Regions from separate parts of the Homo sapiens genome. Here region 2 is linked to region 1. Evidence: fine-mapped expression QTL. Tissue or cell type: whole blood. Region 1 holds a variant in brackets; the other region holds the start of a gene. All regions are shown on one strand. Distances are from middle to middle.

What was found. PIP is the estimated chance that this variant, and not a neighbour inherited with it, causes the effect.
Region 2: it holds the start of HDAC10, and the variant in region 1 is fine-mapped to the expression of HDAC10 in whole blood (INTERVAL, PIP 0.96).

What each region holds. Positions count from the first base shown.
Region 1 is chr22:50,443,287-50,451,286 of GRCh38, forward strand. PPP6R2 (protein phosphatase 6 regulatory subunit 2) reads left to right here. Exons shown (of 24, transcript NM_001242898.2): 23 at 580-831; 24 at 913-1,804. The coding sequence ends at 961. It overlaps SBF1 (SET binding factor 1), which reads right to left. Exons shown (of 41, transcript NM_002972.4): 37 at 5,257-5,364; 38 at 4,947-5,158; 39 at 4,236-4,323; 40 at 4,036-4,167; 41 at 1,714-3,954. The coding sequence ends at 3,856. Among named protein-coding and RNA genes, the nearest start is that of SBF1, 28 kb to the right of the region's middle. RefSeq lists enhancers at 767-936, 1,315-2,161. The variant G/A (reference allele first, on the strand shown) is at 3,913.
Region 2 is chr22:50,247,120-50,255,119 of GRCh38, forward strand. It overlaps HDAC10 (histone deacetylase 10), which reads right to left and starts at 4,146. Exons shown (of 20, transcript NM_032019.6): 1 at 3,855-4,146; 2 at 3,652-3,786; 3 at 3,308-3,404; 4 at 2,944-3,041; 5 at 2,741-2,845; 6 at 2,516-2,584; 7 at 2,209-2,335; 8 at 1,984-2,049; 9 at 1,712-1,771; 10 at 1,543-1,632; 11 at 1,247-1,353; 12 at 1,106-1,173; 13 at 771-1,026; 14 at 573-657. The coding sequence starts at 3,913. It overlaps MAPK12 (mitogen-activated protein kinase 12), which reads right to left. Exons shown (of 12, transcript NM_002969.6): 12 at 5,782-6,361. The coding sequence ends at 6,282. RefSeq lists enhancers at 411-1,333, 706-1,145, 2,491-3,337, 4,992-5,161 and a silencer at 3,842-4,501.

The DNA.
Region 1 (8,000 bases):
AGCCCTGCCTGCACCGTCGTCACGGCCCAGCCTGCAGGTGAGCTTCCTCGCGCCCCCGCCTGACCTGAGTGCCCCTCCCTCAGTCAGACACAGTGTCGTCGCCCTGCAGGAAGCCAGGGGGCCCGTCTGCTGCTCGTGGCCAGGCTGGGCCTTGGGGTGCCCGACCCCCTCCAGAGCAAGCCCCTTAGATGCCCGGCAGGGTCCTCTCTACCCTCCCATCCCCTGGGAGGTTTCCCCAGACTGTGTCCAGTGTGAGGCTGAAGTTGAGATCATAGCACAGGAGGCTCTGGGGTCCTTGAAGAATGAGGCGCTTGATGATGAGCAGGATCTGAGTGCTGCCTGGAGGAGGTTTGAGGTCATCAATGGACAGGCAGCTTGTCCCAGTACTTGGAACTTGGGGCAGCAGAGCTGCCTAGCTGGGCACAACCTGGGCCACCCCACAAAGGGCAGGAGTGAGAGGGGCCAAAGATGGTGCTCCCAGGCCGCCTGGACCTTTTTGTCCAGCTGGTCCTTGGGCATGAGGCGGGGTGGCACTGAGGGTGGGGGTGCCCGTAACCGGAGTCCATGTTTGCCACACAGGGTCGGGTGTGCTGACAGCCGGCTGTTAAGCCCTGCCTGCCCCGCGCCAAAGGAAGTGACTGCTGCCCCAGCCGTGGCTGTGCCCCCCGAGGCTACTGTGGCCATCACCACAGCACTGAGCAAGGCTGGCCCCGCCATACCCACCCCAGCAGTCTCTTCTGCACTGGCCGTGGCGGTCCCCCTAGGGCCCATCATGGCAGTCACAGCAGCCCCAGCCATGGTGGCCACCCTGGGGACAGTGACAAAGGACGGGTGAGCAGGTTGAGTGTGGGGGTAGGGGGTGTGGACAGGGCCCGCAGCCCGCACGGTTCCAACCCCACCCCATTCCTGCAGGAAGACAGATGCCCCGCCAGAAGGAGCTGCCTTAAATGGCCCAGTGTGATGCTGCTGCCGCCCGGCCACGGCCCACCCTGGTCAGGCTGCCTCCTTAATCGAGAAAACTACCTGGTGATGCAATCTTTTTTTTTTTTAATTTAATTTAATTTTAAAATAAATGCTGCATTGGTAAAGCTGGCAGTTGAAACCAGTTGGACGGCCCAGCTTGCGTCTCTTCTGCCTGAGTGGGCCTCTCAGGTCACTCGTGCCCTGCTGGAGGACAGAGGGGCACCTCAGCCGCCCCCAAGCCCAGAGCACAGCAATAAGGTCGGCCTGCAGGAGCCGGGGTGGGGGTGGGGGTGGGGGGGGCAGGACCCTGAGATGCCACCAGGACCTGATGGGCCAGGAAGGGCGTGGACATGGAGGCTGTTTTTACAGTTTTTTTTTTGTTGTTGTTTTGTTTTTAAAGAATACAGAAGGAGCCAAGCTTTTTTGCACTTTGTATCCAGCTGCAAGCTCAGGGCAGAGTCAAGGGCCTGGGTTGGAAAAACCTGACTCACAGGAATGCATAATTGACCCTTGCAGCTACCCAATAGCCCTTGGAGCTGGCACTGAACCAGGCTGCAAGATTTGACTGCCTTAAAAACACAAGGCCCTCTAGGCCTGGCAGGGATGTCCCTGTGCCCAGCACAGGGTGCCTGGCAGGGGGAGACCACAGGTATGCAGGTGGGGGGACATGGTGTGGCACTAGGGGCTCGAAGACTGGTTTCTAGCACTACCGGTCACGGCCATGTCGTCCTAGAAGGGTCCAGAAGATTATTTTACGTTGAGTCCATTTTTAATGTTCTGATCACCTGACAGGGCACCCCAAACCCCCAACTCCCAATAAAAGCCGTGACGTTCGGACAAACCGCGTACTGTGAACCTTCCGGCCCCAAAGCCCCGGCCCGGCCAGGGGTGGGAGAGTCTCCTCCAGCACCTCTTTTGTGGGCCCGCCACCCCCCAGCGTTATCCCCGTGTAATGGGTGGAGGCGGAACAGGCCACATCACGGCATCAGGTCTCTACAGCTTAGCAAATACTGACATTTTTCCGTTTGGGGGATGGGGGGAACCACTTCGCCTAACGCTCAAACACATCAACCCCAGGACTTCCTTTTGTGCCAGCTCCCCCTCCCAGAAGCCTGGGCCCCACCTTGTCCTCAGTGGCTGAGTGGGAGGGGCAGGTGGAGACCAGACCCCCACCCCGCCCCAGCGAGCTTGTCTTTCCACCACGGTTGGGGGTGGAGGGAACCCGCTCAGCTCCCCAGAGGCCGAGTCTCTGCCCCAGCTACACATTGAGTGCCTTGTTCTCGCCGCCTACCCTGTGCCTGGCATTTGTCCTCTCCCCCCACAGACGTGGAACAGGGAGGGCAGGGTCCTTTCTCCCCTTACTCTGACCTGTGGGTTTTCCAGGTGCCAGGAACTTCGGTCAGGCGCCATCTGTCCGGCCTGAGGGAAGACCTGGCTGGTTTCAGTGGCTCAAGTGAGCCCACCCTCACATCTCGCCCAGGTGTCCCAACACCACCTGTGGGGTGGGGGAGGTGGCGGGACCATGCTGGGCCTGACAGGGTCCAAGGCCATCCTTGGCTTCAACGTCCCACCAGGGGAGGGTCTTGGCCCCCCACCTGCCAGCACTGGGCCCTGCCTCTGCAGCTGTCATCAGAACCTTCCCCTCACCCACACCTGCTGCTCGCCTCCCACCTGAGAGGACCACCTGAGGGACCCAGCCTCTAGCCAGGTTCTCTGCCCCTCACCAGCCCCTCTGGCCAGGTCACCAGCTGCCACTCTCAGATGTTCTCTTGGCCTTTGCAGCGTCTATAACCCTCCCCACCTTCTGCTCCTGCACCCCTGGCCAGGCCTCGTCACAGGCAAGGACACAACAGCTCAGCAGGTGAAGCCCTGGGCCTGGTGGGACTCAGGTTTGAATAGGAAAAGAGCAGTGAGGGGCCACAGTGACACCAAGAAGGGAAGGACGGGGGCCCTCTGAGACCCCAGGGAAAGGACTTTTGGGGCAGAATTCCCAAGAACTGAGAGGGTCCATCCCCCATGGGCGTTGGCCCCTTACTCTGCCAGATGCTGCTCGTTGCCTGGCAGGAGCCAGATGTGGTCAACCTGCATTCCCCTGGGAGCCCACTGTCCCCCCCCCCCCCCCGCCTCCGGCCTCCATCCCTTCAGCTCGGGTCTAGCCAGAAACTGACGTCCACCTCAAGTGTCCTCTGGACCTGCAACAGCCTTCTGGGGTCAAATGACCACCCACCCTTTCACCCCCAAGCCTCTGTGAGGTCAGCTTCTGCATCCCCTGGGTAGGGATGGGGGCTTCCTCTCCAGCCGTGCCGGCCCCTAGACCAGCCCTGAGGCGTGGAGGGAATCAAGCAAGTCCCCAGTGAAGCCTCCTGCTCGATCCGCCCCCAGAGCAAAGTCACTCCCAGGGACATGCAGGCCGAGCTGGGTGGACCCAGGCACCAGGAGAGGCTCACGAGAAAGATGCCAACCTCCCGCCAGGTGGGCCTGGATAGGGGCAGATGGGACCCTCTGGGTAGGCCGAGAGCAGGCAGCCGGGGAGTGGGGAAGGCAGGCACAGGAGCGTGGCGTTAGTTCTCTCTTTATATAGACTCTGGTTCTAGAAACTCGCCTGCAGCCGCTGGCTGGACCAGCACACGCTGACGGGGCCGGACTATTTACAGGCCCATTGCGGGCTGTACCTTGGCCACCTCCCGGCACGGTGCTCAGCTGTGACGCCAAAATAAGTTAGGGCCGGCCGGGCGGGGCGGGGCGGGGACGGGGGCTGTACACACAAGTGCTGGGGGCTCGGGGCCTCAATACTGTCGAGGGCCGGGGCTGTAAACATGGCCGGGGCGGCCCTGCCCACCCCTAGTGGTCGGTAACGACCGGAAGCAGAGCAGCCGGGCAGGGCTGGGAGGCTCAGGCGTCCGACAGGCAGCTCTGGATCCGGTCCACCCACTGCTGGGCCGAGGGCAC[G/A]TCCTGGGCACAGAAGTTGTAAACGCGACGCGTTGTCTTCACCTGGGGAAGGGCGGGTTACTGACTCCGCAGCCCCCACACCGCAGAGCCCCTCCCCTCTCCCAAGCCCCGGCCAAGGCTCACGTCAAAGAAGGCCTTCTCGTCCACAGTCTTAGGGGCACCCATAGTGGGCGTGCCAGGTGCCACAGCCTCCACCTCCGCCAAGTCGATGACACCCTTGCACTCTGTGTCCACACGGTGGTCGTAGTAGCGCAGCTGGAGGAGGCCACAGAGTCAGCGGAGCCCCCTCCCCCGTGAGTCCCCCCCACCACCTGATCACTCACCTGGTGCTTGGTCTTGTCCAGCACGAACCAGCGGGCCTTCCAAGGCTTCATGAAGGCCCCCTTCTTGTACAGAGTGCCCTCGTAGGACCTGCATTTCCAGCAGAACCAGGGCCAGGCTGACCGTCATGGCCCAGCCAAGCCCAGGCCCCAGCAGTCGTCCCCCCCTTGCTGTCCCAGCCCAGGAGGTAAGACCAGGCACCCTGTCCCCAGAACTGACCTAAGCCCAGAGCACTGGCCAGGGGGCCACAAAGAAGCCTTTGATGGGGGGCTGCAGGCCCAAGAAGACGACGCCCAGAAAGGAGACAGTGAAGGGCGCCTCACACCCTCCAGACTCCAGGGAGCATCCCCACACCAGAGCCTCAGGGTCTTGGGAAAGCAGCCCCCTACACAGGGCAGGCGCCCTTACGAGGAGAGGGATGGCCAGGCAGGTAGATCTGTAGAAGCAGCCACGGCAGCAGCTGCCTGGGATGGATCCTGCCAGACTCCAGACTCACGGGGGCCCCACCACTGCCCTCTCTCTACTCCTCCCTCAGCCACTGCAGGCTGTGGTCAGCTGTGGTCACCAGTTCGACACCCCAAACCCCTCCCAGTGGTGGTGTATACTTAAGCAAGCTCCTCAAAAGCACCCGCAATCTCCCACCAGAGGACTGCCTGGGACCCCAGAACACCAGCTCAGAGGTGTCCATGTGGCAGTGGGAGGTGCCCTCATACCTGTTCTCACTCTCTGCTGTCTGGAACTGGCTGTACAGGGTGCTGGTGCTGCGGCGGGCAGCCTGACGGGAGCCGGATGTGGTTGAGCCACTACTCTGGTCGCTGTCCAGGCTGAGGCTCAGGGTGGAGCCCACGGGCCCCTCCTGCAGGTACACACCCAGCGAGCGACGGTGGTGGGGTGCGGTGGACACAAGGAGGGAGCTAGGGGTGCCCTGGGAACAGGAGGTTGGGACTTGGGTCAGGGCTGGACAGACTCCACTTTCTCCCAGCAACACGCCCACCGTGGACGCTCACACTGGCCCTCACTCACACGGCCGTCTGGCCGGCCCTCGAGGCGCTGTGCAGCCTTCACCCGGTCCCAGGTGTCCTTCCAGCGCTCAGCGGGTTGGCCCAACTCTGTCTCCAGCCTCTGCAGCTCCTGGGGGAAGAATTAATGGCAAGTTTATTCAAAAGGAAATATCCAGACTAGAGCACGAAAAGACAAAAGGAAAACACAGGAAAGAGACACAACGGAAAGGCCTAACGCGTGTGTGACTGGCCACAGGGGGAGGTGGCAAGAGGGAGGGAAGGAATATGCAAAATGAATATTCGGAGACAACAGTTGAAAAATTTCCCAAACTAACCAGAGGCATCAAACAACATAATCAAGAAGCACTACAGACCCCAACAGGGTAAGTTAAAAACACACACCCCGGCCAGGCGTGGTGGCTCACGCCTGTAATCCCAGCACTTTGGGAGGCCGATCACCTGAGGTCAGGAGTTTGAGACCAGCCTGACAAACATGGAGAAACCGCATCTCTACTAAAAATACAAAAAGTTAGCCCAGCATGGTGGCGCACGCCTGTAGGAGAATCGCTTGAACCTGGGAGGCGGAGGTTGCGGTGAGCCGAGAACGCGCCACTGCACACCAGCATGGGCAACAAGAGCAAAACTGCTTCTCAAAAAAAAAAAAGACCACACAATACTGATCTTCAACACTGCAGGGTCCACAATGTCCAGCTTACAATAAAAGAACAGCAGAAAAATGGAGAAAAACATTAAAATAGACCCTGAAATGAAACAGGAGTTAGAACATACAGTAAATTCAAGAGAGTGATTTTAGGGCCAGGCGCGGTGGCTCACGCCTGTAATCCCAGCACTTTGGGTGGCCGAGGCGGGTGGATCACGAGGTCAGGAGTTCAAGACCAGCCTGGCCAAGATGGTGAAACCCCAACTCTACTAAAAATACAAAAATTAGCCGGACGCAGTGGCAGGCACCAGTAATCCCAACTACTCAGGAAGCTGAGGCAGGAGAATCACTTAAACTCAGGGGGCGGAAGTTGCAGTGAGCCGAGATCACACCACTGCCCTCCAGCCTGGGCGGCAAAGTGAGATTCTGTCTCAAAACACACAAACACACACACACACACACACACACACACACACCCCAAAATGGGACAGAAAAACTGCTGAAAAACAAAGAGAAAAGTCCCAAAACCTGCCAGAAGAAAAAAAGACATGCTCTCTTTGAAAGAGCAACAATAAAACTGACGGCTGACTTCAAAAGAGAAACACGAGGCCAACTGTCAACTTCCAGCCATGACAGATAATTAGTCTGAACAGCCCTCCCTCCATATGCAAATGATGAAACTGGACAAGAAGGGGAAGCCGTTGTTTCCAGATGTCAGACAAGCAGTGCAGCTTGAGAGACAGGAGCCTAAGACATGGGACCACATAAGATGGGCCCCACAGTCACCTGTTTTCTGCCCAGCCACAGTGCAGGGAGGCAGGGCCAGAGCAACACACGGGAGCTTGCTGAGCCGAGGAGGCAGAGACGGGACGTCCAGGGGCGCTAGTGCAGCTGGGTCTGCAGGGCAGCCCACAGAGGGGAGGGAGCACCACAGCAAAGGGGCTCTAGAAATCTAGACAGAGCCCTCCTTGAGTCGTTGGCCAAATTAGGCTGCCATGTGCAAAGCAAGATGTCACAAGGCCTGGCAGAGAACAGCTACTAAGAAGCTATGACCTGACGCCGGCAGCAGTGGCTCACACCTGTAATCCCAGCACTTTGGGAGGCCAATGCGGGTGGATAACCTGAGGTCAGGAGTTCAAGACCAGCCTGGTAAACATGGCAAAACCCTGTCTCTACTAAAAATACAAAAATTAGCTGGGCATGGTGGCGGGCACCTGTAATCCCAGCTACTCGGGAGGCTGAGGCAGGAGAATTGCTTGAACATGGGAAGTGGAGGCTGCAGTGAGCCGAGAGTGCGCCACTGCACTCCAGCCTGGGAGACAAAGTGAGACTCTGCCTCAAAAAAAAAAAAACAAAACTATGAGCTGAACCCAAATTCTAGAGGAATGCTAAAAGATACTGGACTTCCAAAAAGCCAGTGTGGCAAGACCTTACCGAAGACACAAAGACACAAAACTCCAACTGAAGCCCTGGAGAGGCCACACGCCTTGGGCTGCTCTATCCCTGGAGCTTCTCTAGAGGTGCTGGAGAGCTGCCCAAACAAAGCTTAGAAACAAGCTTCAAACAGACCAAGCTGACGCACAAGCTCATTACCTACCTGCGAGAATAAAACCCAAGACTCTAAGCTTAAAGAAAGACAACACAGGCAGGGCACAGTGGCTCCCGCCTGTAAGCCCAGCACTTCGGGAGGCCGAGGAGGGAGAATCGCTTGACCCAAGGAGTGTGAGAACAGCTTGGGCAACATGGCAAGACCCCATCTTTATATATATTTTTAAGTTATGTTTCAAGATTTAAAAGAAAAGATGGACATAATGGTTTATCAGATGGGGAATCTCTACAATAAAAAGCGTTAAATTCATTAGATGGGGCCGGGTGTGGTGGCTCATGCCTGTAATCCCAGCACTTTAGGAGGCCAAGGTGAGAGGACTGCTTGAGCCCAGGAGTTTGAGACCTGCCTGGGTGACATAGGGAGACCCCATCTCTACAAAAAAAAAAAAAAAAAAAAAAAAAAAGTAGCCGGCACGTGGCCCACGCCAGTAGTCTTGGCAACTCAAGAGGCTGAATGAAGCAGGATGATTGTTTGAGCCTGGGAGGTTCGGGCTGCA
Region 2 (8,000 bases), 200 kb before region 1:
AGATGCTTACGTCTATAATTTTTTTTTTTTTTTTTAGAGAGGCAGGGTCTCGTTCTGTAGCCAGGCTGGCGTGCAGTGGCGCAATTGTAGCTCACCACAGCCTCAAACTCCTGGGCTTAAGCGATCGTCCTGCCTCAGCCTCCTAAGTAACTACAGGCACACACCACCACGCTTGGCTGACTTTTTTATTTTTTGTGAAGACAGGGTCTCCATATGTTCTCTAGGCTGGTCTTGAACTCCTGGGCTCAAGCGTTTCTCCCACCTTGGCCCCCCAAACTGCCGTTATTACAGGCATGAGCCACTGCACCCTGCCTAAATGTATACTTTAAATCACCCCCTTCACCTCTCTGCCAAAGAGCATTTAACTGAAGAAGCTGAGGTCAGAGGTCAGACACACTAGTGATCCCCACCCCTGGGGCTGTTCTGGGAACAGTTCCTGGCACAAGGCAATGTTCACATCCATGTGGTTCTGCACCACCCAGCCCTCCTCTGGACAGGCCACATCTCGTTGGCAGGTCCTGGTCCCTGCCCCTAGGTCCACAGCATCCCCAACCCCTCCCAGGTGCTCCCACCTGCCCATCCAGCATCCCATCTAAGAGGTACAGGAGCTTCCCAAGTGCAGTGAGGGCCTCCTCCCGGGCCAGGGACTCGTGTGGCCTGTGGTGGACAGACCAGAGGGACACACAGACACGGAGTGACCGCAGGTCAGGCACACACAGGCACAGGTGTAGATGCGGCCCCATCCTTCTCCCCAGGCCAGCCCTGCCCACCTGGCCCAGGCTTCTGTCTCCTCCCTCAGGGCTGACGCTTCCTGTTGGATGACGTCAGGGGGCAGAACCAATGTGATATCCGGCGTTGTCAGGGCAACAGCGGTGCGGACAGAGGGTGCGGGGCAGAGGCACGGCTGGTCCAGGAGGGAGCTCGGTGCAGATGCAGCTGCCTTACACACTGGACCCCCAGGCAGCAGAGGTGGAGGCCTCCCCTCTGGGGAGTGGCTGCTGGGGCTCATCGGCACAGCGGTCACATCTAGGGACAGTTCGGAGTCATAGCCACTGCACAGGAGCCCGAGGTGGGATCCTGCAGCCTAGCACCCGGCCACACTGACCTTGCTGCTGGAGGCTCTTCCAGTGCGGGGCCTGGGCAGCACGGGCACTCTGGATGGACTCTAGGGCACTGTGAGGGAGACACAACAGTCGTGACACCTGGTCTCACACCCCGGCCCTGCCCGCCCTACCTCCCCTCGCACCTCTGACATGGCGCCATTGGCCCTGACAGGGGTGGGGCCGGGTCACCCAGCAGCGTCTGTACTGTCATGCACACTGACTCCGCCAGTGACTCCAGGTGGTAGCCGCCCTGGGAGGAGGGTGGAGACATGATTGGGGCAGAGATATCACTGGGATGGGATGTCACCGGGAGAGCCCCTGCCTGGCTCTATCCCGGGCAGGACGCCCCTCCCAAATACCCCGTGGGCACCTGGCTCCCATGCTCCTGACCCCCAGGCCTCTGGCCCAGAGACCCTCCCTGTGTGCCCTCCCCAGTCACCTCCAGCACGGCACAGACCCGGCCGCCGGCCAGCACCTGCAGCAGCTGTGTGAGGTGGGCGAAGCACTCTGGCGTGGCCTGCATTTGCCCCTGGAACCAGAGCCATGTGTGATGGGGGACCTGGGCCCCAGGACCCCAGAAGCCCTCCCTGGCAAGGCAAGGCCCTCACCTCAGGGTCCCCGATGGCTGAGTCAAATCCTGCCGAGACCAGCACCAGCTCAGGGTCAAACTACAGGCCAGGCCGGAGTGGGGAGGGTCGACAGAGAGGGGCTGGAGCCCAGGTGAGGGCGAGCCAGGCCCATCCCATCCCCTCCTGAGCACCTTCCCCAGCCACACAGGAGTGGGACAGCTCATAACCCTCCTCCTGCCTTCACTGGCGCACTCCAGGCACAAGGTCCCCCTCCCACCCGGCTGCCCTGGGGGAGCCCTCCGTGCAGTCACCTCAAAGGCCAGTGGGAGCAGCAGGTGCAGGAAGGCAGCCACGTAGTCAGCGTTTCCCATCCCAACCTGGCAGGACATCCCAGGCTACATCCTGAACTGTGGGGCAGGGGAGGGGCCCGGGGGAGGGGGTGGGTGGGGACCTGGGGCTTGAGGGTGAACTGTGGGGGAGGGGAGGGGCCCAGGGGGAGGGGGCTGGGTGGGGACCTGGGGCTTGAGGGTGGGCACCTGGTTCCAGGGCAGGTTGACAGTGAAGCCGAGGCCCTGTCCCCGCCCCACTGCGTCTGCATCTGACTCTCGCAGGAAAGGCCAGAAGCGCCCATGCTCATAGCGGTGCCAGGAGAAGTAAAGGACGCTGCCAACAGCCAGCCAGGGCCAGAGGTCAAAGGTCAGGACCCTCAACAGCTCTACAGCTCCCTGTAGAACGCTGACCCCTGAGCACATGTCTGTATCTCACCCCTGGATTTTCCCAGGCCAGGCTGTGCACCCAAAAACTGGGGCTGCAGGGAAGGGTGGTTTCCGCACCCCTGCTCACCTGGGGTCATCCTCAAAGAGATACTGGATCCCCTGGCCATGGTGCACATCCCAGTCCACGACGAGGATCCTGGGTACAGACAGCGCTGGTGGCAAAGGGGCAGGGCCTCCCACCTCCAGGAGCCCGGCCAGGGATGGGAAGGTGCTGGCTGGGTTCTCTCGCCTCCTGCGCTGCCCCTTGCTGTGTGGCCTGGGCCCACCCCCCTGCAGCCAGCCTGGCACACACCTGTGTAGCCCGTGTTTCTGCTTGGCATGTGCAGCTGCTATGGCCACGTTGTTGAACACACAGAACCCGTTGGCAGCCGCCCTCTGGCCATGGTGCCCGGGAGGCCTACGGCGTGAGAGTAGGATTTGGGTCACGTCAGGGTCGCCCTGGCCCCTCACAGGGCCACCCACGGAGGAGCAGCCAGGGGAAGGGGCAGCTCTCACCTCACCAGGGCAAGCCCATTTTGCACAGCTCCAGTGAGCACAGCGTCCACCAGCTGCAGTCCAGCCCCTGCGGCCAGCCGCGCGCAGTGAAAGGTACTCTGTGGGCGCAGGGGCGCAGATGAGCCCCCTGCCTTCCCTGCTGCCCTTTGCAGGCCATACCCACACTTGTGCCAGGCTGCAAGACACCAGCTGCTGAGCAGAACAGGCCAGCCCCAGGCTCTGGCAGTGCCAGCAGGCAGGTGTGCAGGGCAATGTCATGTGTATGGACCAGGGGACACTGGCTGGGGTTGGCGGCCGTGGCTGTGAACGCTCAAAGGCACGTGCATGTGTGTCTGCACAGGTGAGTGTGTCCGGGGACACGCACCGGGTGGAAGTAGATGGCGTCGAACTGTCCGGACAGCGCCTGCAGCTCCTCCTTGCCTAGGACCTGGGTCTCCCTGACCAGGGATACATACTCTGGGCTGCATGCAGATGGGCAGGCAGGAGAGGCAGGGTCACCAGCAGGAGCAGGGGGGCGGGAGGCGGGGACCTGGGATTCATGGTGGGAGTGGCCACCCTGTCACTTCCTCAAGCCTGTGAGCCCACCCGAGGTGCATAGGGAGAGGCTCTGTATTCGAGGCTGGCAGGCTCGGGGTAGGCCCAGGTTCTTAGGTTTCTAGCTGGGCTGCCCGCCCCGCCCCCCATCGTGGGGCCTGCCCCCGTCCTGACCTGTGCACCAGGCCCAGCTCCTCTTCCGAGGCCTCGCGGGCTGACAACCGCAGACACCTCTGTTCCAGGCCGCGCTGCCGCAGGCGATCCAGGGCTGCGGTCAGGCGCTCAGGACGCTCGATCTCGCACTCGGGGCTGGGGCAGATGAGGAGCTCAGTTCAGAGGTCCCTCCCCGCACCCCACCTCGGCCAGGTCCCACTTACTCGTCCCAGAGCAGCCGGGTGGCCGTCATGTCCTCATGGTACACAAGCGCGGTCCCCATGGCTGCGCCGTGGTCACCCTGGGTTCCCAAACGCCCTCGCTAGTGGTGCCTGCCACTGCCTGTCCCCACCTTCGGCCGGGAGCAGCCGGAGGCCTGGGACCTGCCTGGGGCGCAGGCGGGCGGCGGGCACCGGCCTGGGCGGGAGCGCACAGAACCTAGGCAGGCTCCGGGATCCCAGGCGCGCAGAAGGCACGGAGCGAGGCTGCAGTCGAAGGGGGAGGCTCCCCGCGCCTGGCTTCCGGCTTCCTCGCCTCGGACCTGGGTCCCGCCCCGCGCCCTGCTCCCGGTCGCTATCGCGAGCTCCGCCCCGGAGCGAGGAACCAGCGGGCGCGGAAGCCTCGGCGCCCCGAGCCGCCAGCCCTCGGAGCTGCGCTGCGGCTCCGCCTCCCCATTGGCCCCGCCCCGATCCCCTCCAAGAGGGGCGGGGTCCCCCGGCCTTAGGCGAGTGGTCGCCGCAGCCCCACCCGAACGCCCGTGGCCGAGCCTGCCCATGAGAGCCCCGTTCTGCACCAGCTGGGTCAGGGTCCAGCGCAGCCCCAAGGCCCACCCGGCCCGGGCGCAGGAAGACCTGGGGTGAAAGGCGAGGGGGGCGAGGGGTCTGCAGGGCAAAGGCCACGAGGCGGGAGGAGCCCGCGGGGAGGCAGGTGGCGCTGCGGCCGGCTCAGGGCGGTGGTCGTGGCTGCATGGAGGCGCAGCACCGCCCCCGAGGTTTAAGGAGGGAGTGAGTCCGGTTCTAGCTCCAAGAAGACCCCTGGCCCAAGAGCAGAGTCAAGGTCGGTGGAGGTGGGGACACTGGACCGGGGTTGCGGTAGCATGGTGGGGGACTGAGGAAGATAGGAGGCACGGGCACAGCCACGGAGGAAGATGCCCGAGAGGAAACCTGAGGCCCCCTGGAGCCCAGGGGACACCCTGCCCCCGCGGGAGTTCACATCCAGCTGGGTCACAGAATTTTGGGGCCCCCAGTCCTCAGGCCACCTATGGGCCCACACTTTGGGCCCAGTGTGGACAGCAGCCATGCCACAAGTCAGCGTGGCTCCGGAACTGATGGCGATCACGTCCCCCAGGCCCGGATGCCCTGGAGAGGCATGAGGGTCGCTGGGCAGAGAAGGCCCATCTGTCGTGGCAGCTCATCAGGTCCACTTTGGCTGGGCCAGCTGTGGGCATGTCCACCGAGGACACCTGGCCTGCCCTGCCCTGCCCCTCACTGGTCTCTCTGCTGTAACCCCTGCCCTGGGACAGGTTTGGAGGTGCCCATGGCCTGTGTTCCAGCCGCCACCCTTGGAAACACCGAGTGGCCTGCAGAGGGCGGCCTGGGCACGAAGATACCACTGGAGCAGGGTAGTAGGGGCTAGAGGTTTGATCAAGAATAAAACCCAGCCCTCTGCGCTCACCAATCCACCACAGGGGCCAGAGGGGTCTCAACATGTCCAATGTGCCCCGTCCCCCCAGGGACTGGCTGGCGCTCACCACTTCACCACAGGGGTCTCAACGTGCCCAGCGTGCCCCCTCCCCCCAGGGACCTGCTGGCATTGGAGGATGCAGAGAGCTAGGGTAGATCCTAACACTCCTCCCCATCAGGCCCTGCCCCTGGGTCTGGCTTCAGGATCCACACACAGTGGCTTAGAGTCTAAGCCATTAGCAGGTCACCCCGTAAAAGGGGAGGGGCCAAGCCCTAACGTGGGGGTTCGAAGATCACTGGCACAGGCCTGGGGGAAGTGGGCACCAGCTTTGTGGCCTGGGAGAGATGGGATGCTCAGGCCCCCCTCCTGGCTCTAAGGGTCTGAGCTATCAGGCCAGCCTCCTCTACATGCAGGCCAAGGGCCCGGAGGTCTTAAGGTGGGACCCGGCATGAGGACGCACAGCCAGAACAGGGAGCTACAAAAGGGTCTATTTCCTTCCAGCCACGCGGGCACCACACAGCTGATTTACATTCCAGGCTGGGGGTGCAGGAAGGTCCACTGACGTCGCCCAGGAGAGGGGATGTCCCTGAGTTGGTGCCCTGCGCCCACCCTCTGTCCTTCCTCTGCATGGCCCAGAGCAGGCAGGGCTCAGAGGCCAAGGCCTGATCTGGAGCCCCACCAGCTCTGAGGTTTCTGAGAGCACCGGGCAAGTGGGCCACTGCTCCAGGGATCAGAGGCCATCCCCAGGTCGGCCAGAGGTCTTGTCCAGAAAGTTCAGGTGCTCCTCCATGATGGGCGCCCAAGAGCAGAGGCATGGCCGTGGGGAGGAGGGTCCATGGAACCCGGGCGTCTGCTCTGATGGATGCCTTGGGATGCAAGCCCCAGCCAAGGTCAAGGTGGCAACGAGAGTCCCCTCTCAGGTGGAAGGTGAAGGTGGTCCTCACTGCCACCCCGGAGCCCAGAGATCTTCACAGAGGCGTCTCCTTGGAGACCCTGGCCCCCAGCTGCCGGGGAGGCTTGAAGCTGAGCACCTCTTTGTAAGTAACACCTGGCGGGGGTGGGGGGGCGGGCACAACAGAGAGGGGGGTCAGCCTTTGCCTTCCATCCTGGGAGTCGCTCACAGACACGCCTGGCGGTGCCTCGTGGGGCCCTTCTCTAATCCTAATGTGGTCTGAACCACTGAGAGAAGGTTTGTGTGAAGAGGCCATTGCTCTAGATCTGGATTTTCCAGGGAAAGGGGAGGTGGCCAGGGCTTGGCCACATGTCCACCACGGTCTGTCCTAAGAGCTGAGGCCTCAGCCACAGTTGTGTGGGTGGGGACTACAGAGAGGATCCTATGGCCCATGGCTTTCAAGTTATCTTTCTAGCAGCAGAAACCTTTAATCAAACAAAGCCAAACTCATAAGCACACGAATATGCACACAGCGAAGGGTGGAGGCCCTGCTGCGGGCACCCAGGGACCCGTGGTCGTAAGGAGCACATGTGAATCTCAACCCATCCAGCCCCACCCAGCCAGTGTGGAGGACCAAGGTCCCGCACCCGAGGCAGAGCCAGGACAGGGCCTGAAACATGGCACGGCTCCCAGTGTACACCTACTTTCCCCGGGCACACCCACCCCAGGCTGGTCATGCAGCCATGAAGAAGACACAGCCTGCCATCCTGGAGCAGAAATGAAGCCAGGTCCAGCACAGCCTCAGGCCGCAGCATAGCTGCGGGAGCTGGGGAGGCTTCTCTGAGTCCAGCCTGAGGCTGCACAGGCTTTGGCCAGCCCTCCAAGTTGAGGGGATAGCCCCTGGTATAGGGGATGATGGACCCCAGCAGTTGGGGTTGGAGTCTGGACTGCTTAGCGGGGGCTGGGGGAGACAGGCGAGGCCCTGGGGACTGTCTTGGGTATACAGTTGTCCAGGGGGGAGGGATCCTAAAGTGGGGCAAGGAGAGGGCTGGGCGCGGTGGCTCACGCCTGTAATCCCAGCACTTTGGGAGGCCGAGGCGGGCGGATCACGAGGTCAGGAGATCGAGACCATCCTGGCTAACACGGTGAAACCCCGTCTCTACTAAAAATACAAAAAATTAGCCAGGCCTGGTGGCGGGCGCCTGTAGTCCCGGCTACTCGGGAGGCTGAGGCAGGAGAACGGTGTGTACCCGGGAGACGGAGCTTGCAGTGAGTCAAGATCGTGCCACTGCCCTCCAGCCTGGGCATCAGAGTGAGACTCCGTCTCAAAAAACAAAAATGGGGCAAGGAGAGGCAAGGACAGATTCAGGAGGTGTGAGCAGAGAGGCCTTAGGGACAAGCGGACGTGGTGAGGGTGTCAGGGTGGCCCAGGTCTCTGGCCTGGACATGGCGGAAGGGCAGCAGGTCTGGGGGCCAGGAGGGGCTAAGTGGGCCCTGGTTCCCTGACTCACAGCTGCCTTTCACCACTCCCGGCTCCTTCTGTGCCAGCCTCTGTGCTGAGCCTGCCAGGAACACCCTTCCCTTCAACTTCCAGCTCCAGCCAGAGGTCATCTCCACCAGGCCACACGGCCCCATGCTGCCCTGACCTCCCATCCTCCTCACCTGACCTGCATCCCAGGGATGGGGATCTAGGACTCTGAGCCTGGCCACCTGCACAGGGCCCACAGGGTCCACACAGGCCCTACCCGGAGCCCCCAACTCACGGGTCCACACAGGCCCTACCCGGAGCCCCCAA